2 separate regions of the Homo sapiens genome follow, and region 1 is linked to region 2. The links come from fine-mapping of genetic effects on gene expression. A gene starts in region 2. The other region holds a variant in brackets. All regions are shown on one strand. Distances are between the middles of the regions.

The links. PIP is the estimated chance that this variant, and not a neighbour inherited with it, causes the effect. A credible set is the group of variants that fine-mapping cannot tell apart.
Region 1: its variant is the best candidate, but not a certain one, in a credible set for the expression of GCSAM in whole blood (INTERVAL, PIP 0.80).

Annotation. Positions count from the first base shown.
Region 1 is chr3:112,068,484-112,084,418 of GRCh38, forward strand. TMPRSS7 (transmembrane serine protease 7) reads left to right here. Exons shown (of 18, transcript NM_001395507.1): 14 at 5,813-5,929; 15 at 6,838-7,009; 16 at 8,393-8,661; 17 at 10,259-10,395; 18 at 12,431-12,786. The coding sequence ends at 12,601. Among named protein-coding and RNA genes, the nearest start is that of C3orf52, 9.9 kb to the right of the region's middle. The variant G/A (reference allele first, on the strand shown) is at 6,627.
Region 2 is chr3:112,129,202-112,144,908 of GRCh38, forward strand. It overlaps GCSAM (germinal center associated signaling and motility), which reads right to left and starts at 4,047. Exons shown (of 6, transcript NM_152785.5): 1 at 3,891-4,047; 2 at 1,244-1,312. The coding sequence starts at 3,919. TBILA (TGF-beta induced lncRNA) reads left to right here and starts at 4,222. Exons shown (of 1, transcript NR_157393.1): 1 at 4,222-6,158. SLC9C1 (solute carrier family 9 member C1) reads right to left here. Exons shown (of 29, transcript NM_183061.3): 29 at 11,697-12,080. The coding sequence ends at 12,071. It also overlaps a transcript of C3orf52 not described here. RefSeq lists enhancers at 3,653-3,712, 4,193-4,372, 7,367-7,886, 7,887-8,405.

The DNA of each region.
Region 1 (15,935 bases), 61 kb before region 2:
TCCACTTTCATTTTGTTGAGCAGTGGTTTGTAGTTCTCCTTGAAGAAGTCCTTCACATCCCTTGTAAGCTGGATTCCTAGGTATTTTATTCTCTTTGTAGCAATTGTGAATGGGAGTTCTCCCATGATTTGGCTCTCTGTTTGCCTGTTATTGGTGTGTAAGAACGCTTGTGATTTTTGTACATTGATTTTATATCCTGAGACTGCTGAAATTGCTTATCAGCTTAAGGAGATTTTGGGCTGAGATGATGGGGTTTTCTAAATATACAATCATGTCATCTGCAAATAGGGGCAATTTGACTTCCTCTTTTCCTAATCGAATACCCTTTACTTCTTTCTTCTGCCTGATTGCCCTGGCCAGAACTTCCAACACTATGTTGAATAGGAGTGGTGAGAGGGCACATCTTTGTCTTGGGCCAGTTTTCAAAGGGAATGCTTCCAATTTTTGCCCATTCAGTATGATATTGGCTGTGGGTTTGTCATAAATAGCTCTTATTATTTTGAAATACATTCCATCAATACCTAGTTCATTGATAGTTTTTAGCATGAAGGGCTGTTGAATTTTGTCAAAGGCCTTTTCTGCATCTGTTGAGATAATCACGTGGTTTTTGTCATTGGTTCTGTTTACATGATGGATTATGTTTAGTGATTTGTGTATGTTGAACCAGCCTTGTGTCCCAAAGATGAAGCCCACTTGATCATGGTGGATAAGCTTTTTGATGTGCTGCTGGATTTGGTTTGCCAGTGTGTTTTATTGAGGATTTTTGCATCAATGTTCATCTGGGGTATTGGTCTAAAATTCTCTTTTTTTGTTGTGTCTCTGCCAGGCTTTGGTATCAGGATGATGCTGGCCTCATAAAATAAGTTAGGGAGGATTCCCTCTTTTTCTATTGATTGGAATAGTTTCAGAAGGAATGTTACCAGCTCCTCTTTGTGCCTCTGATAGAATTTGGCTGTGAATCTGTCTGGTCCTGGAATTTTTTTGGTTGGTAGGCTATTAAGTATTGCCTCAATTTCAGAGCCTGTTATTGGTCTATTCAGAGATTCAACTTCTTCCTGGTTTAGTCTTGGGAGGGTATATGTGTCCAGGAATTTATCCATTTCTTCTAGATTTTCTAGTTTATTTGCATAGAGGTGTTTATAGTATTCTCTGATGCAGTTTGTATTTCTGTGGGATTGGTGGTGATATCCCCTTTATCATTTTTTATTGAGTCTATTTGATTCTTCTCTCTTTTCTTCTTTATTAATCTTGCTAGCGGTCTATCAATTTTGTTGATCATTTCAAAAAACCAGCTCTCAGATTCATTGATTTTTTTTTGAAGGGTTTTTTGTGTCTCTATCTCTTTCAGTTCTGCTCTGATCTTAGTTATTTCTTGCCTTCTGCTAGCTTTTGAATTTGTTTGCTCTTGCTTCCCTAGTTCTTTTAATTGTGATGTTATGGTGTTGATTTTAGATCTTTCCTGCTTTCTCTTGTGGGTGTTTAGTGCAACAAATTTCCCTCTACACACCGCTTTAAATGTGTCCCAGAGATTCTGGTACATTGCATCTTTGTTCTCATTAGTTTCAAAGAACATCTTTATTTCTGCCTTCATTTCGTTATTTACCCACTAGTCATTCAGGAGCAGGTTATGCAGTTTCCATGAAGTTGTGCAGTTTTGAATGAGTTTTTTAATCCTGAGATTTAATTTGATTGCACTGTGGTCTATGAGAGACAGTTTGTTGTGATTTCTGTTCTTTTACATTTGTTGAGGAGTGCTTTACTTCCAATTATGTGGTCAATTTTAGATAAGTGTGATGTGGTGCTGATAAGAATGTATATTCTGTTGATTTGGGGTAGAGAGTTCTGTAGATGTCTATTAGGTCCACTTGGTGCAGAGCTGAGTTCAAGTCCTGGATATCTTTGTTAACCTTCTGTCTTGTTGATCTGTCTAATATTGACAGTGGGTGTTAAAGTCTCCCATTATTATTGTGTGGGAGTCTAAGTCTCTTTGTAGGTCTCTAAAGACTTGCTTTATGAATCTGGGTGCTCCTGTATTGGGTGCATATATATTTAGGATAGTTAGCTCTTCTTGTTTAATTGATCCCTTTACCATTATGTAATGGCCCTCTTTGTCTCTTTTGATCTTTGTTGGTTTAATGTCTGTTTTATTAGAAACTAGGATTGCAACCTCTGCTTTTTTTTGCTTTTCATTTGCTTGGTAGATCTTCCTCCAACCCTTTATTTTGAGCCTATGTCTGTCTCTGTACATGAGATGGGTCTCCTGAATACAGCACACTGATGGGTCTTGACTCTTTTATTATTATTATTATTATACTTTAAGTTCTAGGGTGCGTGTGCACAACGTGCAGGTTTGTTACATATGTATACATGTGCCATGTTGGTGTGCTGCACCTGTTAACTTGTCATTCTTTATCCAGTTTGCCAGTCTGTGTCTTTTAACTGGGGCATTTAGCCCATTTACATTTAAGGTTAATATTGTTATGTGTGAATTTTATCCTGTCATTATGATGTTAGCTGGTCATTTTGCCCGTTAGTTGATGCAATTTCTTCATAGCATCGATGACCTTTACAATTTGACATGTTTTTGCAGTGGCTGGTACCAGTTGTCCCTTTCCATGTTTAGTGCTTCCTTCAGGAGCTCTTGTAAGGCAGGCCTAGTGGTGACAAAATCTCTCAGCATTTGCTTGTCTGTAAAGGATTTTATTTCTCCTTCACTTATGAAGCTTAGTTTGGCTGGATATGAAATTCTGGGTTGAAAATTCTTTTCTTTAAGAATGTTGAATATTGGCCCCCATTCTTTTCTGGCTTGTAGGGTTTCTGCCGAGAGATCCGCTGTTAGTTTGATGGGCTTCCCTTTGTGGGTAACCTGACCTTTGTCTTTGGCTGCCCTTAACATTTTTTCCTTCATTTCAACCTTGGCAAATCTGACAATTATGTGTCTTGGGGTTGCTCTTTTCAAGGAGTATCTTTGTGGTGTTCTCTGTATTTCCTGAATTTGAATGTTGGCCTGCCATGTAAGGTTGGGGAAGTTCTCATGGATAATATCCTGCAGAGTGTTTTCCAACTTGGTTCCATTCTCCCCATCACTTTCAGGTACACCAATCAAATGTAGATTTGGTCCTTTCACATAGTCGCATATTTCTTGGAGACCTTGTTCATTTCTTTTTACTCTTTCTTCTCTAAACTTCTTTTCTCACTTCATTTCATTAATTTGATCTTCAGTCACTGATACCCTTTCTTCCACTTGATGGAATCAGCTACTGAAGCTTGTGCATGTGTCACGTAGTTCTCGTGCCATAGTTTTCAGCTCCATCAGGTCATTTAAGGTCTTTTCTACACTGTTTATTCTAGTTAGCCATTTGTCTAATCTTTTTTCAAGGTTTTTAGCTTCCTTGTGATGGGTTTGAACATCTCCTTTAGCTCAGCGAAGTTTGTTATTACCTACCTTCTGAAGCCTACTTCTGTCAACTTGTCAAAGTAATTCTCCTCCAGCTTTGTTCCGTTGCTGGTGAGGAGCTGCATTCCTTTGAAGGAGAAGAGGCGCTCTGGTTTTTAGAATTTTCAGCTTTTCTGCTCTGGTTTCTCCCCATCTTTGTGGTTTTATCTACCTTCGGTCTTTGATGTTGGTGACTTACAGATGGGGTTTTGGTGTAGATGTCCCTTTTGTTGATGTTGATGCTGTTCCTTTCTGTTTGTTAGTTTTGCTTCTAACAGTCAGGTCCCTCAGCTGCAGGTCTGTTGGAGTTTGCTAGAGGTCTACTCCAGATGCTGTTTTCCTGGGTATCACCAGTGGAGGCTGCAGAACAGCAAATATTGCAGAGCAGCAAATATTGCTGCCTGATCCTTCCTCTGGAAGCTTCGTCCCAGAGGGGCACCCGCCTATATGAGGTGTCTCTTGGCCCCTACTGGGAGGTGTCTCCCAGTTAGGCTACACAGGGGTCAGGGACCCACTTGAGGAGGCAGTCTGTCTGTTCTTAGAGCTCAAATGCCATGCCAGGAGAAGCACTGCTCTCTTTAGAGCTGTCAGAGTGGAACGTTTAAGTCTTCAGAAGTTGTCTGCTGCCTTTGGTTCAGCTATGCCCTGCCCACAGAGGTGGAGTCTATAGGGGCAGTAGGCCTTGCTGAGCTGCAGTGGGCTCCACCCAGTTTGAGCTTCCTGGCTGCTTTGTTTACCTACTCAAGCCTCAGCAATGGCGGACGCCCCTCCCTCAGCCAGGCTGCCGCCTGGCAGTTGGATCTCAGACTGCTGCGCTAGCAGTGAACAAGGCTCTGTGGACGTGGGACCTGCCAAGCCAGGCATATGTGCCACATTTGCTTAATCCAGTCTATCATTTATGGACATTTGGGTTGGTTCCAAATCTTTGCTATTGTGAATAGTGCTGCAATAGACATACGTGTGCATGTGTCTTTATAGTAGCAAGATTTATAATCCTTTGGGTATATACCCAGTAATGGGATTGCTGGGTCAAATGGTATTTCTAGTTCTAGATCCCTGAGGAATCACCATACCATCTTGCACAATGGTTGAACTAATTTACACTCCCGCCAACAGTGTAAAAGTGTCCCTATTTCTCCATGTCCTCTCCAGCATCTGTTGTTTCCTGACTTTTTTTTTTTTTTTTTTTTGAGACAGAATCTTGCTCTGTTGCCCAGGCTGGAGTGCAGTGGCACAGTCTGGGCTCACTGCAACTTCCACCTCCCGGGTTCAAGCAATTCCCCTGCCTCAGCCTCCCGAGTAGCTGGGATTACTGGTGCACACCACCATGCCCAGCTATTTTTTTTGTATTTTTAGTAGAGATGGGGTTTCACCATGTTGGCCACACTGATCTCGAACTCCTGACCTCAGGCAATCCACCCGCCTCAGCCTCCCAAAGTGCTGGGATTACAGGCAGGAGCCACCTGTAATTACGCGCCTGGCCTTTTCTAGACTTTTTAATGATCACCATTCTAACTGCGGTGAGACGGTATCTCATTGTGGTTTTGATTTGCATTTCTCTGATGACCAGTGATGATGAGCATTTTTTCATGTGTCTGTTGGCTGCATAAATGTCTTCTTTTGAGAAGTGTCTGTTCATATCCTTTGCCCACTTTTTGATGGGGTTGTCTGTTTTTTTCTTGTAAATTTGTTTGAGTTCTTTGTAGATTCTGGAGATTAGCCCTTTGTCAGATGTGTAGATTGCAAAAATTTTCTCCCATTCTGTAGGTTGCCTGTTCACTCTGATGGTAGTTTCTTTTGTAATACTGGCAGTTTCTTATTGCTTACTTGCTTTTAATGATGCTCAGGATTGTAGGATACAGAGGACCTGATGTAGAGGAACTTGCCAAATACTGGAATGGAACACGTTCCACTCTCACCCTTGAAGAAACAAACCTCCAAGGTTGTGAACAAATGTGTTGTAATTCACAAGTCTGTCCATTTTGCCTCCTACTGATATAAAATAACTGAGCATGGCTGTGATTTTTGCTCAAAAGTTTTCTTGGAGAATAAGAGAAGGTAATAGCAAAGAGGCTGCAGCCTAAAGCCACTGATATGTCGCACTTCTTCATGTCTCACCTGCTATGGGAGAAAGAAGAGGTGGTTGGATTGATTCTCAACAAATATGCCTGCCAGCGTTCAAATGGCTTTTCTTAGGTGAAGAAATGGATCACTGTGAGGTTGCTTCTCTTCTCTCTGCCATTTATCCCAGAGCAGCAAATACCAATCCTGTGATTAAACCATTTTTTATGGGGTTTGGAGTTATTCATTCAAATCTCATTCACTCAAGTTTGTTTCTGGCTAAGGAAAGCTGTTTCTTCTTTTGTCCATTGTTAGGTATTCCATGCAACAACAGAACTTTTAAGTGTGGCAATGATATTTGCTTTAGGAAACAAAATGCAAAATGTGATGGGACAGTGGATTGTCCAGATGGAAGTGATGAAGAAGGCTGCAGTAAGTAGAAATTCATTCCTTTGGGTTCCTGTATTCCCTCTTCAGTTTACCTGTTTGTTATATTTTCATTCCCTTCTTGGTGTATTTCCCTTGATCGAGGTTGCCATAGCCAAAACAAGAATAGTAACTATTGACAAACTGAGTCTGAAATTGTTTCTCAGAAATAAAAACTCTGGAATGGATTCTGTCTTCTTGATAACAGCATTAATGAATTAAATTTTTAAAATGAGAACTTTCACTTTTTAATAATTTTAATCAAGGGAGAAGATCTTAAATAAAAACCTTGTGAGAAAATAAATAGAAACTGGAACGCAGTGGATGACCTGTTAATGCCTTATGTTACTAACAATATCAAGTGCTGTTTCTTTAGGCCTGACTCAATAACTAATCTCCCACATGCTCCTATTAGTCATGTGGCTACTACTTGGCCATGTGGCAACATGTAAATTATACATCTTTACCAATACTATTTACACTAGCAAACAATTGCTCTGATAACTAGTTTTCCCTGTAGGTTTTCATTTGTCCAGGTCTTATAAATCTTTTCCCCAATCCTTTCTGTCACATCAGCACAACTTCAAAGAAATTCTCAATTCATTTACATTCCTCTTTACCTGACAATCTAAATCCATAGGCAGCTGTTTGTGTCAGTTCAGCTGTTACAGCAGGTCCCCCTCCTCCTCTCATCTGCGTTGTG[G/A]TATAGAGACTGTGTCAGGGCATGCTTCAGGAAGGAGGGAGTGGTTTGTTTGTATTGGTTTCAGACAGACTCACATGTTCTCTGTCCTCTAGATAAGGAGATTTCAAATTGCTACCTAGTGAGTCAGTTCCCAGCCAGCACTAAAACTGGCTTAACTTCTAGTTTTTCTTCCAAGTCTACCTTTAAATCACATGCCCTTTCTCCACCAAAGCCTGCAGCAGGAGTTCCTCCGCCCTTCACCGCATCATCGGAGGCACAGACACCCTGGAGGGGGGTTGGCCGTGGCAGGTCAGCCTCCACTTTGTTGGATCTGCCTACTGTGGTGCCTCAGTCATCTCCAGGGAGTGGCTTCTTTCTGCAGCCCACTGTTTTCATGGAAACAGGTAGGGCCTCACGGTCCTTACTTTCAAGTGGCACTCTGTGGCCATAGACAATATATCTGCCCTCAAATTGTGGGAAGCAGATCCCTGTTGGGGACATTCAATCAATTCAATTGCACTTTCATTTTTTGGATCCCACGTGTGTGACAAACATTTTTTTTTAAGGTATTATTGGTATAAAAAAAGCACAAAGGAAACATCAAGAATGAATAGGCTTTTACTAAGGCTGGGAAAATAAGATAGGGCTTTTAACTCAGAGGGAGCAAACTTAAGAGAATGTGTGGAGAATGTGGAGAAAAATGGGCACTGGAGAGTGACTGGAGAATGGAGGTCCCCAATGGGATTATGATGGGATAGATGCTCTTCCAGCCAAGGGTAAGAGGACATCTTAGAAAATAACCTCACTTAAAATTTAAACTTACTATTGGAATCTACTGAATCTTAGGTTAAAAAAATCATTCACTTCTCATTCTGCATTTTTTTTTTAGTATTTCAATGAAGTTACACAGTTTGGATATTTGTTTCCCTGAAAATTATAGGATTTGTGTTAATTATTAAGATAGCTTCACATCTGTTTGATCATGAGTCTCTAATGCTGTGAAACTGCTCCAAATAATGTATTAACCCTAATATTTCTTTGGGTGTCCATTGACACTCATGAGACATCAGCTAAGCAAATTAGTGACCAAAATTTTGGGGCTTCCTCATTTTTTTCACTCCCACTCTTTACCCCACTGCTATGCTGATGGAGATGGACGCTTCACATGGAGATTACAAGTTCTTCTGTGACTTGTGCAAGGTCATGGAGGTCAAGATTGGGATTCTGGAAGGACTGATGGGAATGGCAGTTGGTGACCCTATGAATGGGCATTGTTGAGCAGTAAGAGTAGTGATCATTAAGGCTTCCAGTAGTTTGCCAGAAGGAATTTCATTAAATTCCTGCTTATAGCACTTTGATTTCTAATCTATCTTGGTATTCATATCATTTGAATTTGGTAGTAGGATTCTCCATCAAATGCCATTGTCAGCATGAATAGGAAGAATGTAACAAATTAATTCTAGTTACCAACATTCTTGACCTGTGTGTGGTTCATGAAATACTAGTGGAAAGAAAATGTCCAGGCATTTGCTTAGGACACTGTTGAGTGAATTTTCTATTACTTGCCACTCCTAATACAGCTTACGTCATTTCTGACTTTTTGAGGGAGACAAGGGAGGCTCACAGTTACGCTTTCTGCCATGGTCCCCGGACAAAGCCAGTGACTATAATAACACCCTGGAAGTCAGGCCCTTCTTTTTCAGCCCTCAACTCTTTAGAGTGCTTGTTTGCAAACTGTATGTGGTTCTTTAAGCTGCTAACTTTATGTTTCATTACTGTTCTATCAGGCTGTCAGATCCCACACCATGGACTGCACACCTCGGGATGTATGTTCAGGGGAATGCCAAGTTTGTCTCCCCGGTGAGAAGAATTGTGGTCCACGAGTACTATAACAGTCAGACTTTTGATTATGATATTGCTTTGCTACAGCTCAGTATTGCCTGGCCTGAGACCCTGAAACAGCTCATTCAGCCAATATGCATTCCTCCCACTGGTCAGAGAGTTCGCAGTGGGGAGAAGTGCTGGGTAACTGGCTGGGGGCGAAGACACGAAGCAGGTGTGTGTATGAATGAATGGTCATGCCCTTCCCCTGCAGAGGATGATAAGGTGTTTATGTAGTGCTTTAGGGTTCACAGAGAGGGTTTGTGTATATGATCTCCTTTGAACCTCCTGACAACTCTGGAAGGTTGGATTGGAGGAGGGTACTGTTATTTCTTTTTAATGATGCTATCCACCTGCTTTAAAAGAAGCAGGGCTCACCTTATAAAGAGGGAGAGGACTGTGTATGAGCAAGGCAGGATTGACTAGATAGTCATGGGCCCTTTTCAAACTCTGAAGGTTATGCTATGTTATTCACTAGAGAAGGAGCAATTCCTCCCTTTTCATTCAAAGAAATGATTCATTTATAAAGGAGAGAAGGACACACATGCACATCCCACTATGTCAACTCATAGGCAACAGTCTGGGAGACTATGTGGGTATGACCTGTGCCTGTGCAATTGGCCAAGGGATGAGAGTAAGGGCTGAACTTCAGACTGCCCTTAGTTTCCAGACCAGAAACTCAGGCCTGGAGGTTATACCTCCAGGATTTGGATTTGGTCCACCCAGAGGAGATACCTTTTTGCTATTTCTCTGACGGGAGAGGACATCTTTTCAATATGCATAAAGATCAGGCTGTATAGTAGGGAAGTCCCTACATCTACCCTGCCAAGGTTTTTCATGGTCCAGGATTCAAGGTGGGATTCTGAATATATAGTGAGGGGAAGAATCCAATGCTTTGTGAATGTATCCCCAAACGCTAGTGCTAATATTTTCCCTTGATCTTTCAATCACCTCACCTTCTTTTGCCATCCTTTTCAAGGGTTTAGGACACGTACAGCATCTGTAATTCCTGAACCTTGCCCTGTAGCCTCGTTTTGACACTCTAAAGTGTGGGCAACTTCTCAAAGGCAGCTTCTCAGTGCTTTCATTTAGTGATTGAAGTAGTAATACCACCAGCTTGGGTCCACTGAAGTCTCAGGGTCCCAAGGAGGGAAGGCAGCTGACTGTGAACACTTGTAACTTTGATAGGTTACTGTGCTCAGTGCTTTGATTACATTATCATATATCACAGGAGAAAAGCATCTGCCCAACCAACTTATCATGAGATGTTTTCTTTATAAGCCTGGGTATGTGTGTGTACACTTATTTTTCTGAATCATCTTAGCCAGGTAGGTTCAAAAGGAAGTGAAACAGCTATTTGCAAACTGTTAGGTTTTTATGGTTCATCAGAGACTCCCATATATCAGTTATGCTGCTCCATTTAAAGAGCTCTCTTGAATAGTAGATATTAGTAATAACTGTTGCTGACTTACCATCCTACGGAAAACAGGAGGGAAATGGTGAGGAATATGGCACAGTTGTTCAAGTAATTGAGTCAGACCTTGGGTCTGAATCTTGTGTTACTTGCTAGTGGTGTGTCACTGGGCAAGCCCTTTAATCTCCTAGCACTCGATTTCTTCATCAGCAAAATGAGGATAATAGTAGAATTTACCTCAAGGGAATTGCCGCTATGAGGGTAAAAGGAGATAATGTGTGTTAACTTTTCAAATGAAGTCCTGAATACATGCGGCCATTACCACTAACATCATTTCTACTTCCAATGTGTTTTGCAGATAATAAAGGCTCCCTCGTTCTGCAGCAAGCGGAGGTAGAGCTCATTGATCAAACGCTCTGTGTTTCCACCTACGGGATCATCACTTCTCGGATGCTCTGTGCAGGCATAATGTCAGGCAAGAGAGATGCCTGCAAAGTAAGTCATTGTACCTTTCCCTTGCCTAACATGTTGTGCTTTCCATAAATGCTTTCTCACTTAATCTACATAACACTGGGAAATAACCAGGGCAGGTATTTCCCTGAATTCACTTGAGCTGCTCAGATATTATTTATCATCCAATTGCCTAAGATCTTGGAGAGGTGTTGAAATAATTTATTCTATAGAACGCAGTTTTCTATAATGTGCTCCATGTATTTTCCTTCAATATTTAGAGGATGAGGTCAGCATTCATCATTCTGCCATAATTTTCTTATAACCAATTTATTTCCTATTTCCTTAGCAGCTGCCATTTAATTTCTAAAATTTGAAGGATTTTATTTACTCATTCCTTTGAAGTATATGCTGGTGGAAAGAGGAGAGGAATGGAGAGGTGACAAAGAATACTCATTTGTAGTTCTCTGGGTAGGCCCCTGGCAGTGGTAAAGTTGGAAGTCACCTTTGGGGTGACATTTCTCGGAGCCTGAGATTCCAATCTATGCAGTTACCTACATGATTGCCAAAGAGTAAATAGATGATTTAGAGCAAACTTGTCCAACCCACGGCCCACAGGCCACATGCAGCCCAGGACAGCTTTGAATGCAGCCCAACACAAATTCACAAACTTTCTGAAAACATCATGAGATTTTTTTTTGCAATTTTTTTTAGCTCATTAGTTATCATTAGTGTTCGTACATTTTATGTGTGGCCTGAGACAATTCTTCTTCCAGTGTGGCTCAGGGAAGCCAAAAGATTGCATACTCCTGATTTAGAGGGTGAGTAGGACAGTGGGAGCTGTTCTTTCATCTTTCCACAAGCTTAGCCATGATGCCACAAAAACTCATCCTATAATAATGACTTCTGTCTTCTGAGCTCCTATTTTGTGGCAAGCACCGTGCTAGGTTCTTTACATAAATTCATTCCAATCATTCTTTTTTCCTCATTTTATAGAAGAGGAAACTGGGCACAGAGAGGGTAAGTAAATTGCCTAAGGTCATACAGCTAGTAAGTGTAAATGTCTGAGCTGGGATTTGAACCCTTGCCTCTCTAATGCTAAGGGTACTCTATTTTGGGTGCTTCCCATAGCTAGTCGGTTACACAGCCCTGTTCCACACAGCCACAAGTGTTTACTTGTTAAACTTAGTAGAGTTGATGTGGTGGCAATTAAAATAAAGAGCCCAGCTTCCCTACTAGTTGGAATTTTCCTAATCAGGTATAAGATCATAATTTGGATACATGGGCAAATTTGTTGCCTCTGAGTAAGTTGCAAGATTATCTACCCTCTAAAATAGGAAAATAAAACCTAGATATTATAATTTAAAGGACTAATACTGTGGAAATTATGTTTATACTTTGAATTGTTTAAGCCTTTGCTTAGAGGAATTGAGATATCAGAAAGGACTCTCAAGTGAGAGTGATTTGTTTGTGATGACTGTGGACCAGCAGTTGTTAGGGTTTTTTCACTGGACCTGGCTAACTAAACAGGTCTCTTCTTCTCCATGGGGCTATGAGCTAACCACTAAAGTTGCATGGCCCAGAGATAGAAGTCAACCTTCCAAGATAACCATGCCTCATAAGGTTGTTGTGAGGATTAAATGTCTCTAAACGATTCTTAGCACATAGCTAGCACTAAATAAATTTTAGCCCTCACTACTACTACTACTACTACCACCACTACTACTACTACTACTATTACCACCACCACCACCACCATCACCACTAGTATTACTGAGGTTTATTCTTTGTTTAGGGCTATGTGAGAGTTGTTTTCTCCAGTAAGAATCTTCCAGTGTTATTCTTAGCCTAAAGAATCATGTTTCGTCTAATGAATGCAGCTGTTTGATTATAGGAAGAATAATTATAAAATGATAGAAGTTTCACATTAGTTTTTCACACTTCCCAAATTACAGAGTGATTAGCCAAGCAAAAACATGTCATTAGAGGACTCTTGAACACAATTCATTAGATACAATAAAGATGAAACTGATGATCATGGGACCAATTTACTTTATACTTACATTTTTTGTGTGTGTAGGGAGATTCGGGTGGACCTTTATCTTGTCGAAGAAAAAGTGATGGAAAATGGATTTTGACTGGCATTGTTAGCTGGGGACATGGAAGTGGACGACCAAACTTTCCTGGTGTTTACACAAGGGTGTCAAACTTTGTTCCCTGGATTCATAAATATGTCCCTTCTCTTTTGTAATTGTACCAGTTGTATTTTTACTGTGATTTATGTTAAAAATAGATACTTTAAAATGATGCAGTAATTGGCTGGGTGCGCTGGCTCACACCTGTAATCCCAGCACGTTGGGAGGCCGAGGCGGGCAGATCACGAGGTCAGGAGGTCAAGACCATCCTGGCTAACATGGTGAAACCCTGTCTCTACTGAAAAAAAAAAAAAAAAAAAATTAGCCGGGCGTGGTGGCAGGTGCCTGTAGTCCCAGCTACTCGGGAGGCTGAGGCAGGAGAATGGCATGAACCCGGGAGGCGGAGCTTGCAGTGAGGCGAGATCAGCCACTGCACTCCAGCCTGGGTGACAGAGTGAGACTCCATCTCAATAAATAAATAAATAAATAAATAAATAAATAAATAAATAAAATGATGCAATAATTACTAATAAAATGAGTCCCTTACATTTTTTTAACTAGAAATGTCAAATTGCATACATTTAATAATAAAATTAGTCCCTTACTTTTTTTCAACTGGAAGTGTCAAATTACATACATTTAATACTTATTGAAAGACAGGTTAATATGTGTTCCATAAAAAGTTTTCCCAAGGAAATAACTATATTCATTCTTAAGTACAAAAGGCTATTGATTCAGAGATGGAAGAAACCTAAAGTAATGTTATGAACCAAGCCTCTAAAATAAAATAAAAAAATAAGGGAGATGTTCAGGCATCCCTATTTTATGTCCCTATTCATGTTCAGATACTTATAAAAATTACAGCAAATTTGACTTATTAAAATAAGAAATTCCAGTAAAAAACATACCTGACCTTCAGCATTTTCAAGAAACTAAATGCACAAAATATCTCCTTTGCAAATGCAAATGAAGCAAAACTCAGTTATCGACAGAATAAGTACCTATATTGTTGCTTTACAAACCAATTTTATCTAAACATATCATAGTGGACCATCTTCAGCCATGGCACATGGTAATGTTGTGTACAGAGAAACCAATCAACCAACCAACAAAACTGACAGCAACCATTACTAAATGGCAGAATAAAGCATCATGGTAATTGAATCGAAAGCATGTATATGAGATTCAAAGAAATTGTTGTAATGCTGGTCAGCAAAAAAAAGGCAAAGAAATTTTTGAATGATTGTTGCAAAAGTGAAATTTTTCAGAAATATTATCATCTGGCTTTTGGTTCTTTTTAAAACCCCAGTGGATGAGACTTTCTTTTACTTTCAGACTCTTATAATACCTTACATAGTTGTAAGCCTATAGCACACTCTCAATGTATCTTAGTTCTTGATTTATTTTATCTTGATTTAGAAGGTTTCATACTTGATCTCAGAATATTCTTTTCATTAACAGAAGCCAGAATTGATAGTACCACCAAATGAGTGAAAACAACAGAAAAAAGAGTGATATTATTTGTTTTCCTGTTATAAAGTCAAAGAAGTAATAAAAATACTAACATCAGGTAGTGTCTATTAATAGAATAATGCACAGAACCTTAGAAAATCTTAATGTAACAGCAAAAGGAGAGAGAGCAAAAGGTGTCATCTCCCAGGCCAGATAAATTTTTCAGTTCATAGAATATACTTTGATTTGTTAAAAGACTGTTCCCTCAGATTAAGGATAAAGCATCTTAATAATACCTCTATGAATGGGCCCCAAAGGTTTCAGTAAACTGGCTATACGATAGTGCAATTCAGAGGGCCAAGTGTACCACTAATTCAAAAGGGAGGACTTTGCTACTGAATCCACTGGATAGAAGAGCGAATTAGGCTGATAGTTCTTATAATCTACATTATTTTGTCTGGATGGCTGTGACCTATATACAAGGTGAGTTGTACTTTTTACTTTATGGTCATTTCTAGGGCATAGAATTGCTCTTCACAAAATACATGAAAACCTTTGCATAAGTCTGTGATCTCGGTTAGGGGATGGAGGAGGGCTGGCATGATCCATCAGATTCATCAGAGGGAGTTTTTGAAAGCACATGTATGTACTACCTCTATAGGCCCTCACTGGTATTAAAGTGAGTACACGATATGCTGTAGCAGTGCTGGGGCAGGGAAAAGGTTGAAAAACAAACATAACTTGCTTGGATATTGCATGTTAAGATGCATTTAGAACCTGAATGATGTGGGAATATCCACTTCATTCTTGCAAAGGTGTGAAGTAAGGCAAGTCCCAAGAATGGTTTTGTTAGCAGAGCAAAATGGCCTTCATAAATTAAGACAGAAGCATTTCACGTGCCATATTATCAGGGAGAACTTGTAGGGACTCATGCCTTCTTTCACAGTGCCTTGAAAATAGCACAGTGAAGCACCACAAGCAACCATTTCTCAATTGTTTTCTACTTGATTAGCTTGAGTGGCTGACCCAGTTGCTGACGTTCGGAGTAGTATTGCTTGCCATCTGACAACACACAGGAACAAACTGTTGCGTATTCCAGAGTCACAGACCTATTTGAAGGGAATGAGATGCCTTTGGTGTATTGGTGATATCACTCTGATGATGTTACTTTGTTTTTCAGTTTATATGATAACCATTTAGAAAATTATTTGCTTCTAAAAAGGATTTAAAAAGAAGAGCAAGTACTATTAAAAAAAAGCAACATCAAAAATCTTATATTGGTCAGCAAATATAAGTATGTTTTAATTTTTTAATGTTACTTAAATTAGACACTTCAAACAAACTAAAGCAATTGAGTCAATAATAATTTTAAATTATATTAAAGAAATCTATTTTTGAAATAATAGTATATTTAAAAAGCCACCCTTATGTAAATGAATTCTGAAGGAATTACAAAAACAAATCTAGGTAGAGTTTGGTTCCTCATTCACAAATTCTTGACTTTCATCAGACTCGTTTAATCTAAACTTGGTTGTACCTCTAGGGAGAAACACCTCTTCCTAACTTATTCTGAATCCTTAGTGTGGAGTGAAACTGGCAGGATGAAGAAAGTCTTCAGGTAGGGTTGGGACTCTCATCTGCATTCTAGGTCAGCTGTCTGGAGATTAAGAAATTTGCAGTTAACAGGAACAGGAACAGGTTGCAAATAAGAATTTAGTTCAGGTAATATGGGAGGTGTCAGCAAGTGTCAGTGATCAGGAAAATAGGACAGCACAGGAAGAAAAACCAATATCAAAAGAAAACATATTGAATCAAGGGTTAGTGCTGGGTGCTAAGGGTCGGGGGAGAGTGGGTATTAGCCACAAAGACACAGTCAGGGAATGTAATGGAGCATTTACTGAGATCCTTTCATTTTTCAGGCACAGGAATAAATTCTTTACCTTAATCTTCCTGACTCTGCTAGGTAGGAATCATTTTATAAGAAAACAAGCAGACATT
Region 2 (15,707 bases):
CCAAGTTAACAAACCAGATTCACTGAGGAGAAATGAATGAGATAAGAGGAGGGGGATGATTTTGAGAGATATTCTCTGAACTCCTGAGGCCACAGTTTTTAAATCTATAAAAGAGGATGTATATACTGCTTACACATGGAGTTATAAGAATAAGCTGAGGTTAAATATGGGCAAAAACGATCTGTAAGCTGGCTGTTTCTCCTACTTGACTTTTCTGCAGTTTATTCTTGCATTTCAACATGGTGGTTTTGGTTTGGGATGGGTTCAGATAGCCTCCAAGAAGCAAGCTAGACAAATCTCTATACCCTTAGGCTACGTGTCAGGAATTTGAGGTATCTGTCTCTTTCACAATGCCTTCTCTGGCTCTCTGGTCTACCCAACCTCTCCCTTGTTATAATGCCGTGGCCCTTCTGATTTATTTCATCATTTGAACTGTATGCCTTAAAATATGCCCAATGATACCCCTGAAAATATGTAATTCTCAACTTGAACTGAAAAAATTCACCCTGTTGAAAGGAATCTCTGGGTCTCCAGCCCCTAACGCGGGCATTGGTGTTAGAAAATAACAACAGTGCTTGTTTTTTAATTGCTCCTCTTTCAAAATCTCCTCCTGAAACCATGTGAAAAGCACAGATAACTTTACAGGCCACAGAAAAACTGACCTTGTCAGCCCTTAGGATTCTTGGATCCTGGAACATTAGTTCCATATTTTAATTATTCCTTTCCTTAGAGAGAATTCTTTAGGGCTGGACATTTGAAAGGTCTGTTCAAAAAGAATTAATGAGGTGGTCTTTGTTTAACAACATCAGGGCAATCACAATGGTGTCTCCACAAACTTTCTAAAAATTGTCGTAACATGGGGCATGTGGTCACTTCAGAAATAGACACCTATAGCTTAAAATAAAATGGCTAGGGTGGAGGTTGAGCACAAAGGTACCTGAGATAGACAAACAAAATGACAACAGGAAATAAGACCTTTTATTTTATAACAGGGCATAACAGGGACTAGCAGGGTCTTAGTTCCTGTTGCTAGGAGTTACATTAGGCTTCTAGCAAAGTAGCATATCTCCTGTCCAAAGTTTTCAAGCATTTTATCTTTTGTCCTGTCTTCACATTTGTTACTATTGCAACTGCTACTGGTCTAAACAGGGCCCTCTCTCACTGGGATGTGAAGTCCAGGGCTTGACATACTTCGTTCTCCTTGGGCAAGGTCTGGGGGGTGTTTGGTTGATTTTGCTCTCACCTGGATGTTCTCTGTTTGGGGCTTTGCATTCTCACATTCCAAGGCATCTCTTGAGTGTTCTGCTGCCGCCTGAAACTCAACATATCAGAAACAGGCTAAGTATTTCCTAAACAGGCCTGTCACTTCTTTTCATAATTTTTCCGACTTTCCTCATTTCTGCTATTTGTGTGTAACTCAGAAATTGACTGGTTGCCCTCACACATGTTAATACTGTTTCCTCAAGCACATGTCGCAAGCTACCTTTGATCTGACATGCTCTCCATTGCCACAGCAACAGCCCACTGATGTTCTCCAACCTCCATGAACAAGTGATCCTAAATCATCTGATCCCAAATATCCAGGGATCCTCGTCATGACCCTTGAGAGTATCCGTGTCCAGAGAGAGGCCTGAGGTCCTCAGCTACCATCTCTTTGGTGCAGTTCCAGGAGCTATGCACAAGTAATGGGGAAAGGTACTGGCTTTGTCTTGTGTAAATCACACCATCTTTCACAGAAAGCATGGAGGCCCAGAACAAGGGACAGAAGGAGAAGAAAAGGATTGAATAAAGAAAATAAATTGGTTCATTGTTTGGGTTAGATTTCTGTATACCCATCTTCCCACTTGTTGGGAATTGGGAGTATGAGGATAAAGAAACTAACACTTAAACACTACTTACTATATGCCAATCATTTTGTGTGTTATATTTCATTTAATCCCAGAATAAATCCATAAGATAGATATTATCATTATATTTTTTATACTAATGAGGAAACTGAGGCCCAAAATGCTAGGCAACTGGTCTGAGGATCCACAGCCACTAAGGGGGAAAAGCTGGGTTTGCTGCTGGCAGGTCTCTTCCTCTGAGACTGAGCTCCTCTCATGAAGGGATGAGTGCCATTCTATTCTGTGCAAAATTTCCCTGACTTCTTAGCTTATTTGATCTGGAGAGACACGGTTGGGGGGGTATGCTGACTAGATGATAACTGGGTGTTGGGGTGACAATGAAAATTAGATACCAATATATACAAGACTTTTGAATACGTTAACGGAAACATTTTATTTAATTATTTTAATGAATTTATTTTTAAGACTGGGTCTTGCTATGTTGTTCAGGCTGCCCTCAAACTCCTGGGCTCAAGCAATCCTCCTGCCTCAGCCTCCTGAGTAGCTGGGACTACAGGTGCATGCCACTGCACTTGGTTCAAGGGAGACCTTTTAAATCATCATAGAAATAAAGATGTTGGGCAAACTGATCAACTATTTGGAAAAAAATTTACATCTGACACCATATATTGAATATATGTTGCCAAATGTAAAATAACAAAATCAAAACTTATGTGAGTTGATTTGTCTTATCTTAGGAAGAGCAAAGAATTTTAAGCATGAATGCAATGGCAGAAACCAAAAAGCTTTCTAGATTTAAAATCGAATTTTCTTTAAAATAAATAAAAAACCATAAGAAGTCCAAATAGCATAAGATGTGTGCACCTTGGAAAAAGGTTTTTTTTCTTACATAAAACAAAATTTTAAAGTAAAAAAATTTTTTTAAAGTTTTTTTGCACTTATTCAGTGCACGTGATATGCCAGAAACAATGCCAGGAACCAGGAATTCAAAGATAAATAAGAAACAATCACTACATTTGAGCATCTCATATCTAGTAATAAAAATAGTAATTTATATAATTGTTAGAACAATGCTAGAGTAGAAGATTGACAAGGGGCTGTGACAACCCAGGGTAGAGAAGTCTCAGACAACATGATTCTTAGGAAGGGACATGAGATATTCCACAGGACCACCAATCCTCTTTTCGGCAAGTGGTCAAAAGTGGGCTACCATTTTTTCCTGTGTTCCACTCTCCAGTAGCATGAACTGAGACCAGGGATTCCAAACATAACCCTGTGAAGACCCCCTCTGGCTCGCTTACTCTCTCTAGATCACCCCACTTTATACCCTAGAGATTACCTTGTCTGTGGTGGCACTATTTTGGTGGCACGGCTTTGATATTAAGGAAGATGATGGTCAGAAAAAGAAAGCAGAAAATATCTTCTAATTTTGAACCCTACTTTATGTCAGGCACTATGCTAGCACAATACACACTAGAACTCTCTAAGGTAGATATTGTATTATTATTTCTACTTAAAATAAAGAGGCTGAGGTCCAGAAAGTAAATCTGAGTTCTGTGCCTATTTAATCTAGATGACCTCTGCTTACCTGCTTGCAGGGAGTGCACATCAAAGGAAGACTCAAGGTGGCAGGAAGCTTGCTGTTTATTTCAAACTTAAAATAGTGGCTGAAAGAGGGTGGTGATTTTGACCTCCTTGTGGAGCATGAGGAGCTCAGGAGAGCATCTCCTTCCCGGGCTTTCAGAAAGTTGTTTCATTTCTTAGGTGGTAACCTATTATATAGACCTTCCTTGGTAAAGTCTTTCCACCTTTCAGCTATTCTCCATCAGCTGCTCACCATGATTCTTGGGAGAAGGCAAAACCTATGGGAAATTTAATGTGGTATCTGGCACAGAGTAGGCACTGAAGGCTTGGCAGTTTCCTTACCCAACTACTTTCTACCCCAACTTAGTGTGCTAACTGTATACTAGCTTTCTTTTTCTCTTCCTTGCTGTATTGTCCTGTCCCATCTCCTCTGCTCTCCCACAGGGAGTCTAGACTTACCTGTTTTCTCTCAGCAGAGAATTTCCCATCCTCTCAGTCCTCTCAGGGCTTCCCCTCCGTCCCTTTACCACTTCCTTCTTGCCTTGTGCTCTGACAGGGCAACTCCTGACTTAAAGAAAGGGCTGTGTGGCTCTGGCCACCCGTGCAGAGACAGCAGAAAGGAGAAGGGTGTCTCTGCAGAGGGAAGGAAGAGGCTGGGGGAGGAGTGTTAGAGGCACGCATGTGCAGAATGTCCTAACATGTCAGTGCCTGAACCAACCTGGCTGTTGGCCATAACCAGCAACTACCCGTCAATGAGAGCTTCGAACCTCTGGGGAATCCCAGGTCTGAAATTACAGATGGGCCATGGGAGTTTTTCCACTACAGATATTTACGTTTATAAATCACGTTGTCTTCTTAGAAAAGTCAGAAGGAGGTTAAAACAGTCAAGCCACAGACCTGTAGAAAATATAGTATCAACAACTCTCAAATCTGAAAACAAACACCCAGTAACAAAATGGGCAAAATATTTGAACAGACATTTCACCAAAGGAACTATACAGATGAACATTAAAAGATGCTAAACATTGTAGTTATTAGGGAAGTGTAAATCAAATCCACAATGGAACACTTTTACATACTTATTACAATGGCTATAAAACCCTGACAATATCAAGTATGGCAAGGTATGCAAAGCAACTGGAAGTCTCATGCATTGCTGATGAGAATGCAAAATGACAGCCTTTTTGGAAAGAAGTGATAAGGACAGAAGGCAGGGCTTTACTGGGTAGAAGAGGGTGGTTCACTGGCAAAGGTCCCACCCTCAAGCCTTGAAACCGAAGCCCTAAATGAGAACAGTTATCCCTGTTATCCTGCCCAAATGTTACTCTTTAGCCTGTCCAGCCCCCCTATCCCGTGCCCATATAAACCCCAGACCTCAGCTGGCAGACAGACAAGCGGCTGAACATCAAGAGGAGAAGAAGCAACTGAGTGTCAGAGATGTGGCTTAACTTCAGGTGGCATGACTTCAGGGAGGAGCCCGGCCAGAGACAGCAGACTTCAGGGAAAGGTCACTTTCTTCCTGCACCATCCCCTTTGCAGCTCCCCTTCCACTGAGAGCCACTTCCACCATTTAATAAAATCGTCCACATCCATCAACTTTCAAACCATTCATGCAACCTGATTCTTCCTGGATGCTGAACAAGAACCTGGGTACCAACAGGGCAGGGTGTAAAAGGCTGCCACCCTGACTCTCCATTGAGTGGGTTAACACTTAGCTGTCCACGGATGGCAACTGCTAAAAGAGCATGAATTGTAACACATCCCTAAATGCTGCTGTTGGGCTGGAGCCCAAAAGTGCTCATCGAAGCCCTGGCACCCGCTTGCCTGCGTGCTCCCGCTCCCACAGAGAGTTTGAGCATGGTGGTGGCCAAGTAAGTAGGCCACACCCCTGTCGCAAGTCCCGAGAAGGGGTCAAGGGAACTCTCCCATCTCAGAAGTATGGCAATTTCTTATAAAATTGAACATAGGGTTACTGTACAACCTGGCAATTTCACTCCTAGGCATTTAGCCAAGTGAAACTTATGTCCTCTAAGACTGTGTGTACAAATTTTTATATGTGCTTTACTCATAATAGCCGAAATACCCTGGAAATAGCCCAACTGATCTTCATTGAGTGAATTGCTAAATAAGCTCTGTGTTATATTACATCCACACAACAGAATCCTGACCATCATTGAAAAGGAGTGGACTATTAATACATGCAATAACTTGGATCAATCTCAAATGCATTACACTAAGTGAAAGAGACCAGACTTAAAGCCTACCTTCTGTGACATTAGAGATAAGGTGAAACCACAGGAACAGAAAACATATTAGTGTTGCCAGGAGCAAAAGGTGGGGGAGGTGTTGACTTTCAAAGCACAGGAGGAAATTTTTTGTTGTTGTTCTTTATCTTGATTGTGTTAGTGCCCACATGACTGTATGCATTTCTCATAATTCACAGAACTGTATACTAATAAGGGTGCACTTCACTGCACATAAATGAATCTCAACAGACAAAAGGTTAAAAAAGAAAGAAATCTCGGGACAGGAATCATGGATTTTTGTATTATCCTTGTATTTGATGGTTGTTTCCAGTTTGGTCACTCATCTGTTTGTTCATTCCTTTAACAAGTATGTGTCGAGTGCCTACTATGTGCTGGGCACTGTAGGTTCAATGGTAAGAAAAGCAGATACAGGACTGCTCTTGTGAAGTTCCTTGAAAGAAATAAAACAAAGTGCAAAATATTTTATTGCTTGTCCTTGAGTAATGTAAAGGTCATATCTAAAACAGGCAGGAGAAGGATGGGGAGTGGGCTTAGAAGAAACAATTTCAGAGAAACTAGGGTACTAGCTGTGCAACCCCAGATTCATCTCACATCATTCTTATCCTTATGGCTGCTCTCCAAACTTCCTTTTGGCTCTGTGAGGGATTTCCAGGAGCACCTTATTAAAAATGGAAGATTTTATTATAAAAGATAAGCCATTATTGATCATTCACTTTTCTAAAAAAACACAAATGTGAGAATAAAATAAAAACACACAAGACTCACTAGCCCCTGCAAGACAGAAAGCAGCCCTGGACAGAGAGCCTCCTTATTATATACCTAATGCCTGAACTCACACATTCTAGGGTTTCATGTTTTGTTACCTCTTGCAAAGGATAGGAAACTGGCTAGAAAATTCATGTAAAGGAAGGTCACAACTTTAAAGCTATCTGACGCTAATGACTTGTATAATCTAGTTTGCAGCTCTGAGAGACAATATCAAATAAGCATTGTCAAATACTACTCCCACCTAACCTTTGCTGTCATTGTTCTTTGAAATTATCTTTGGGATTGGTTATGTTCTCTCACTGTAGCTTTCGTTTATCTCAGAGCACACACCCTAATGTCCATGTGCAGTCTCCATGCTCAAGTATTCCAGAATACAATTTTCTGGAGTCTAACTTCAGTTGACACCTGACTCCAAATTGCAAATCTACCTCCAACCAAAAAGAAATGAGAAATTAGTTTTTAAGGGCAATTAGCAAATATATTACAAAAATAATTTCAGATAAACGCTATGTGACAAATGGTGCTGTCAAGTCCTCTTATGTGAATACTAGTCATTGTTTGTCTTGAGAAAATGTGTGCAGTGGAGGATATCTTCTTGGCATATAAAAGGGGAAGATTTCTTTCTGTTTTAGTAATCTCTTTAGGGGATTGCCTGTGGTGTGCATTACATTCTGGTTGAATATTCAGAAATAAAAGTGTTTTCTTTCTCTTCTATTTTTGTGGTGAGGTTTTCTGAAATAGCAGGAGATTTTGCTTTTAATTCTATTTCCCCAATAGTAGCTCCATTAATTTTTTTCATGAATCCCTCATGTAATTGACTCTAGGAAAGATGTTAGGGTGGTAAATTTTCTTATTCTGTAAATATTTGAAATTCAGGAAAACCCTCCCATCAATAAATTAAATGAAGCATTGAAGTAAAAAAGAATATTCTTAACAAAGCTTATATTGAAAATCAGGTTTCCACAGCATATAGATCTAAGAAACCTGGGGGTACCCTTGTCTGTTTCTCCTATTCTCCTCTTTCAAAACCATTTCCTTTCCCAGGCTGGATAATTACAATAAAAAATAGAGTATGTGTTCCAAATTATTGAATGCTTCTTCCTTGTGTATGGAAAATCTGGGATGACAACCAGTGGTCTGCCATTTTGTGTACGAGAAAAAGAGGTATGTATGTGTGGGAGTCGGAAGGAATCTTGGTATACTATTATAACTAACCTCTCTCTTCCCTATTACCTTCAGAAAAAAAGAAAAACAATCAATCTAACCTAAAAGTGCCCCTTCCTCAGTGGCCTCAGCACATTTTGCACTACCTAGAGGCTAGCAGCAGGGGACCAGAATGTCTTAGCATTGTGAAAGAGAGACCACATGGACAGGGTGCTTAGCCAGTGAGTAGGGCTATTGTTGACTTCCCACCAGTATGAATGAACAGATCCTAGACCCTAGTTGGGGCAGCCTGAGCAGACACAGCCTGGATGCTGCTCCATGTGTGGCTTAATTAGTTCCACTATTGTCTAAAAGAGTCTTTGAGTCCAGAGAGCCATGGTAGGGTGAGTTGGAAATCAATCTGCCCATTGTAATTTAGGGGAAGGTTAGGAATTGCTTTCAAGCTTCTGTTTTACTCAGGCCGCTAGATGGAGAAGCTGAGCTGTGGAAGTGTTAGCTATCAATCACTTGTGTAAAGTAGCATGAAAGAGCAGGATATTTATAATAGATTTACTGCTGTAAAACTGACTCTGGACTATAAATAATATATCTCCTCTCCGTAAATGAGTAGAGCAACACACCCCCACACAAAGAAGCCCAGATAACAAATCTTTGAATCATAGATTCACTCTTTATTCTTCTCAGTGTTTAACTCCAGTGCCTAACACGTGTAAGAAACTACATTTCTAACACATGTAAGAAACCGTATGTGTTGAATTGGAAATAAAAGCCTGGATATTTGTAAGCAGATGATAGGGAAATCAGAGAACGTTTGGGTTGAGATCTTTAAATTTACTTTCCTATCCTTTGGCATTGCTGTAAAGAATTAATGACCAATGACTGTTTTGCTATATCCTTTGAAGATCATAGAAAAGTATAATTACAATAAGTATTTGTTGAGAGCTTTCTAATAATCCAGTAATTCTGTTAAATGCTTTAGATACAATTTCTAATTTCTTCATGTAAGAATTCTGTGGAATAAATACCATTTCCTCTTTGTTGTAGATGAGAACACCAGGCTCAAGTGACTTGCTCAAGGATATCCCAATAGGAAGTGACAGAGCTAAGATATAAGTTCAAACGGGGTGTGGATATATCTATTTGTTGTCCTATTTAATAAGTACTCATAGAAAGACGTCTTAGCTTGACTTTGAAACCTGGTCTACATCACTCCAATGTGTCAATAAGGAGCAGTATATTTGCATGTAGTGTGTCAAGGCTTCCCAGTTCTTACGCAGTTTTCACAATCTGGGCTGGCCTCAGCACAAGGCACGTTAGAGACCTTTAGGGTAAGAGTGAGTGATAAGAGTGATTCTAGATACTCCTGCAGTTTCAAAGGCCTAGATGGGATAATTCTAGCCCTAGCCCTAGCCCAAGCCCAGTCACTTTCTGGCAATGGTGAAATGAGGGAAGGGAATTAGGAGAACTAATTATACAGAAAGAAAATTATTTTGGGGCATTTTATTTTGGGAAAAGAAGTGGTTTATTTAAGATTTCTTACAGAACCAGGAGTCAAATAGCTTAGTTAAGACTTCCCTATTCTGCTTCCCTTTAAAAGAGGGCAAAGGCTGCATGGTGAGAGAGTACTGAGGAATCTTCCTGAATAGAACTTTCTACCTATATACTTTGTGATACAGAATATGAGCTGATTAGTGGTCCTAGCTAATGTCAGATAGTTGTGTGTTTGAAAACTGTAACTATTAATTGCTGCTATTCCATATAAAAAATATTTTGTTTTAAAGAGGAGATAACAGAGTTTCAGTAACTCTCTAGGTGAACGTTGGGGTTAGACTTTTGCTTTGTGGTGAAGAGATTTCAGCACATAGCTCCATTGGCTTTGCAGGAGCCATGGTAATCCAGAGATGATTGCCTAGAAACAGAATGGGAACTTTTTCAGTTCACTGGGAATGCTCTCCTAGCTGTAACCACCAGGAGGGTGGGACAGCACTTCTCTGAGAATAAATGACCCTTGGGAAGAATGTTTCTTCATTTGCAAAGTTTCCTGTTTTTCATTAGTAAAACTAATATAGAACATGGAAGATAAGTCAAATATCTGCAGAAAAAGTACAAACCAGGTTTAAGCATTATAAAAGTTAAAGAATAAAGCTAAATTACAAAAATATTCAAGGGTCAACAGACCAAGGAAAGCCTTTTATATAAAAATTTTAAAAGCAGACAATATTCTGGGCATTGTAAGCAAATAAACAGCTTTCCTCTGAAGAGCCAAATGAAAGTGAGCTCTAAGAACCTTCCTCAGCCAAAGTCTGTACATTACATTCTTTCAGGTAAAAACAGAGCCCTAGGCACACAACCCACCATGCCCTGAAGATGAGGCTGGTTATATACATCATGCATGGTACCAGGATTTTATATTCCAGTGTCTTGTGTAGTGGCCTTTTCCCACAGGGAGATGTTTACAATCCAGTACACAAACCTAGTCCATGACATTGACAATAACTAATATAATGGAGTGTATGCAATACTTCTTCAATGGCTTAAATTTCCATGATAAAATCTAAATAACTTAAAAAGCATTACACTGATTGTGCTTGGAGGATTTAAATCCATGTCATCATGCCTAGCTGTGTGACTTTGAGCAATTTATTTGTGTGCTCTAAGCCCCATTACTTCCTTGGCAAAATGGGACTAATGATGGTAAGTACCTCCCAAAATTCATATGATGACTGCATAAGCTAATGAGGGAAAAGCACTCAGAATAGCGTATCAGAAGACACATTAGGCTCTCTGTAAGTAACATTAGGCTCTCTGTAAGTAACAGCTACTGTTGGTGGAGAACACTTCTTCCCTCTCTAGGTCCTTGCTCTAGATCAAGGGCTGAAATCTCCATTGCCTTTATATTGCTGCCCATCTTCATTTTCTCATTTGTTCTACTGAAGTGCGGTGGTTTATTTGGTTGATGTATTTGGAAGTAGAGCCTGGACATTCTGTGTTAATCCCCTTCTTCTTGATACTTTTTGGAGTAAATTTACTCTTAGAAATCTTGCATTTTCTACTGTTCTCAGCTATGCATTAAGCTTAATGACAAATGCCTACAGCAGTCAATCTTTTCAGTTCTAGGGAAAAGAAGGCAACCACCTTATCTAATGTCAGCTCCATCAGTAATAATGGTGAGCTTGTGAATGTTTTAATCTCTATCTGCTTTAACCCTTTATCATAATTTTCAGTTGGTTCAGAACTCAGGAGAGGAGGGGTACTCATTAATGGGGTTCCTTAAACACTTAACAGCTGTCAGGTAATTATCACTGGGAAAAAACTGGTTAAGGTTAGTTTTGGAGAGAAGTGGTAGCAGTTTGATTTGACTTTGTCAACAGAAACAAACCAAGTTGTCTTTTCCACAAGGACACTTTTGTGACAGGAGTTGCCATACTTGGCTTCTAAAATGTGCCCACCACCAGTTATTTGGCATAGCATTCAGATTTCTAGACCCCCAGGTGGAAGTCTGACTCTGAAGACTTATCTTTAAATATATATTTTTTTTTTTTTGGAGATGGAGTCTTGCTCTTTCACCCGGGCCAGACTGCAGTGGTGCTATCTCAGCTCACTGCAAGCTAAATTTTTATTAATTCTTCAGATATCTATTTAGGGCTTACCATATTAGGGGGATATGTGTTATAACTTGTTTTCAAATCTCTGCTCTGCCTCTTCCTAGTTGTAAGATTTTCAGTTTACTCATTCATAAATTGGGAATAATTGTACTTACCTTATATGATTGTTACAAAATGAGTTCATCATAACTGTATGGCATGTGTTGTATGCCTAACATACAGAAAGCATGCACTAATTCTTCACTGTTAAGACTATTATCTAAAATTACATACTAGGCATTGTGCTTGTTGCTGTGAGTATAATGGTGAATAAAGTGATTACTGAAAGTTTCACTCAGGGCTAAGTTGCCTGATTCAGTCTGAATCAGTTTTCATTCCTCACTATTATAATTCTCTGAGAGCTACCGAGATGAGTGAAGTACAATGAGTGACAAAAATCAATACTTGGATCAAGAACAGCATTTAAACTATATTTTAATACATTTTATTTTTCATAAAGTGAACCAAACCATTATTGCTGTAAGAGCAATATGCAAAATATCTAGATGGCTATAAACTTATTTTCTGGCTTTAAGACTAAAATTTACTCTAAGATTTTCTAAAATGTTTTGTATATTTAAAATAACAAATATTTTAAATCAAGGAAATTTTGCAAAAAGTATATATGTTGAACTGCTGGTTTCAAGGTCCAAATTTCTTTTCTGCTTAGCACCAAGATCATCCACACAGGATCCAACCTGAAGTTACTCCTTCTTGATGTAGGGAAGTGTGTTTCTGCAGCAGGAGGCCTCTCATAGCCACAGCATTAATACATGCTTCGGTCTTCTTAACAGTCTTACTCTTTCCTAATAGAAGCGGAAAGAAAAAACAAAAACATAGAGGGCTTTTGAATCTTTCAATATTGACTTACAACCCAGAATAGGATGTACTAGAGGGTCAATTTGACTCCCATAAGACACACTTGGTCATTTTTGTTAAGGCCAAGGAAGGAAATTGAGCAAGTGAGTGTGAATCCCTTGTCACTCATAGAGTGGTGGCAGAATGATTTAACCTAGGAGTCAGAGTCTGAGAAGCCACTGAAGCGTGCTAAAATGAACAGGCATAGTTTATGGATTGTCAGGAGGAGGATTGTCCATTGTGAGAAGCATTGACTTAATCCATTACCACTCATTGAGCTTCAGTTCTGACTATAAAAACCCCCTTCATCAAACCAGTATTGCTGAACGTAAAGGGTGTTAAGAAGAAATAAATAACTTTCACATAATTTATATTTCAATAATGTTTAATAGTTTCATAATCATGCTTTTTATTATAAAATCAATAGAACTGCATAAAATAAGAGAAGTGATCAAAACCACTCCTATTCTCATCCTTCTAATTCCATAATTAAATAACTTGTATTGATCTTTTCTAGACCCTTTTCATGTTGAAAGATGTATATATATTGTATGTTGCATATTTTGCCTTCCTCTTCATATTTTACATTGATCTATACAACCAACCCTTTTAATGGTTGCACAATATTTCCTCATATGGATGTTCTGTAGACAATCTCGTTGTTAGACACTTGGGCTCTTTCGTCATTAGAAGTAGTAGTGCCTTGGACGTTTTGTACACATTTACTGTAAGAATAATTTACTTTGGATTAATCCCTAGAAGCATAATCACTAATTCAAAGTGTGTGAGCATTCTTATAACTTTGTTACAAGTTGTTTTTACTCTTCTACCAGCAAAATATGAGAAAACCAATATCCCTCAGTTTTCATCTATTTCCTCTTCTGTTTCAAAGGAAATAGATGTTACCAATGAATAAAAAAGTTGTCAATTAAAAAAGCAAATGTTAATAATTTTTTTTAAATTCTGCATTTCTTAGATTACTATTTTCTCCATTGTTAGGTATTGTCTTTTACTTGAATTGCTTATTCATAAGTTTGCCTGTTGAAATTACAGTGTTTTCCTAATCATGTTGTACACATTAGTCCAAAGTAAAGATATTGATCTTATTGTAAGCAATTAATTCTTTTTTTGGACCATTCTTGAACTGCTTTTATTATTATAGGATTATATAAGAAACTGCTGACTTGGGTGTCCTCCTGCCAAGAAGATTATCAATCTCCAGCACCTCCTTGTATTTCCTTCTGCTTTCTATGACAGTATTACTTTTTTGAGGTAAAAGAGATCAATGCATTAAACATTACCTAAATCATTCTGACTTAAATTCAATATACAAAAAAGAGAATATCTTCTGATAATATATGAAAGTATTCTTTGGGCAATAATAAAAAAAAATCCTTTTCTTTCCAATTTTTATTTTAGATTCCAGGGATACATGTGCAAGTTTGTTACCTGGGTATATTGCGTGATGCTGGGCTTAGGATTCAAATGATTCCATCACCCAGGTACTGAGCATAGTACCCAGTAGTTAGTTTTTCAACCCTTGACCCCTCCCTCCCTGCCCTCTGTAGAAATCCCCAGGGTCTAATGTTGCCATCTTTATATCCATGAGTACCCAATGTTTAGTTCCCACTTACAGGTGAGAACATGCAATATTTGGTTTTCTTTTCTTGTGTTAATTTGCTTAGGATAATGGGTTTCAGCTGCATCCATATTGCTGCAAAGGACAGGATTTGGGTCTTTTTTATGGCTGTATAGTATTTCATGGCATATATGTACCACATTTTCTTTATTCAACCCACCACTGATGAGCACCTAGGTTGATTCCATGTCTTTGCTATTTATTGTAAGTGGTGCTACGATGAACATGCAAGTGCATGTGTCTTTTTGGTAGAATAATTTGTGTATATATATATATATATCTCCAGTAATGCCATTGCTGCATCAAATGGTAGTTCTGTTTTAAGTTCTTTGAGAAATCTCCAAACTACTGTTCATAGTGGCTGAACTAGTTTACATTCCCACCAACAGTGTATACATGTTTCCTTTTCTCTGCAGCTTCATCATATCTGTTGTTTTTGTCTTTTTAGTAAGAGTCATTCTGAATGGTGTGAGGTAGTATCTCATTGTGGTTTTGATTTGCATTTCTCTAATGATTAGTCATGATGAGCACTTTTTCATGTTTGCTGGCTGCTTGTACGTCTTCATTTGAGAAGTGTCTGTCTATGTCTTTCATGCATTTTTAATGGGGTTGTTTTTTGCTTGTTCAATTGTTTAAGTTCTTTATGGATTCTGGAAATTAGGCCTTTGTTGGATGCACAGTTTGGGAATATTTTCTCCCATACTGTAGGTTGTCTGTTTATTCTATTGATAGTTTCTTCTGCTGTGCAGAAGCTCTTTAGTTTAATTAGGTCCTACTTGTCAGTTTCTGTTTTTGTTGCAATTGCTTTTGAAGACTTAGTCATAAATTATTTGCCAAGGCCAGTGTCGAGAATAGTGTTTCCTAGGTTTTCATCTAGGATTCTTATGGTTTGAGGTCTTACATTTAAATCTTTAATCTGTCTTGAGTGAATTTTTGTATATGGTGAAAGGTAGGGGAAAGAATGAAATAGTTTCAGTTTCATTCTTCTGTATATGGCTAGCCAGTTATCCTAGTACCAGTTATTGAATAGGGAGTCCTTTCCCCATTGCTTGTATTGTCAACTTTGTTGAAGATTAGATGGTTGTAAGTGTGGGGCTTTAGTTATAGGTTCTCTATTCTGTTCCATTGGTCTATGTGTCTGTTTTTGTACCAGTACCATGCTGCTTTGATTACTATGCCTTATAGTATTGTGATGCCCTGGCTTTTTTTTTTTTTTTTTTTTTGAGACAGAGTCTCGCACTGTCGCCCGGGCTGGAGTGCAATGGTGTGATCTTGGCTCACTGCAACCTCCGCCTCCTGGGTTCAAGCAATTCTCCTGCCTCAGCCTCTTGAGTAGCTGGGATTACAGGTACCCACCATCAAGCCCAGCTATTTTTTTGTATTTTTAGTAGAGACGGGGTTTCACCATGTTGGCCAGGCTGGTCCCAAACTCCTGACCTTGGCGTCCTAAAGTGCTGGAATTACAGGTGTGAGCCACCACACCCGGCCATTTTTTTTCTAATTCTGTGAAAAATTATATTGGTAATTCAATAAGAATAGTGTTGAATCTGTAGATTGTTTTGGGCAGTATGGCCATTTTAACAATATTGATTCTTCTAATCCACAAGCATGGAATGTTTCTCCATTTGTTTATGTCATCTGTGATTTCTTTCAGCAGTATTTTGTCATTCTCCTTATAGAAATCTTTTACCTCCTTGGTTGCATGTATTCCTAAGGTTTGTGTGTGTGTGTATATATTGTAAATGGGAGTGTGTTCTTGACTTGGCTCTCAGCTTGAACATTGGTGTATGGAAATGCTACTGATTTTTGTACATTGATTCTGCATCCTGAAACTTTGCTGAAGTTGTTTGTCACCTCCAGAAGCCTTTTGGTAGAGTCCTTAGGGTTTTTTAAATATAAAATCATATTGTCTGTAAAGAGAGATAGTTTGACTTCT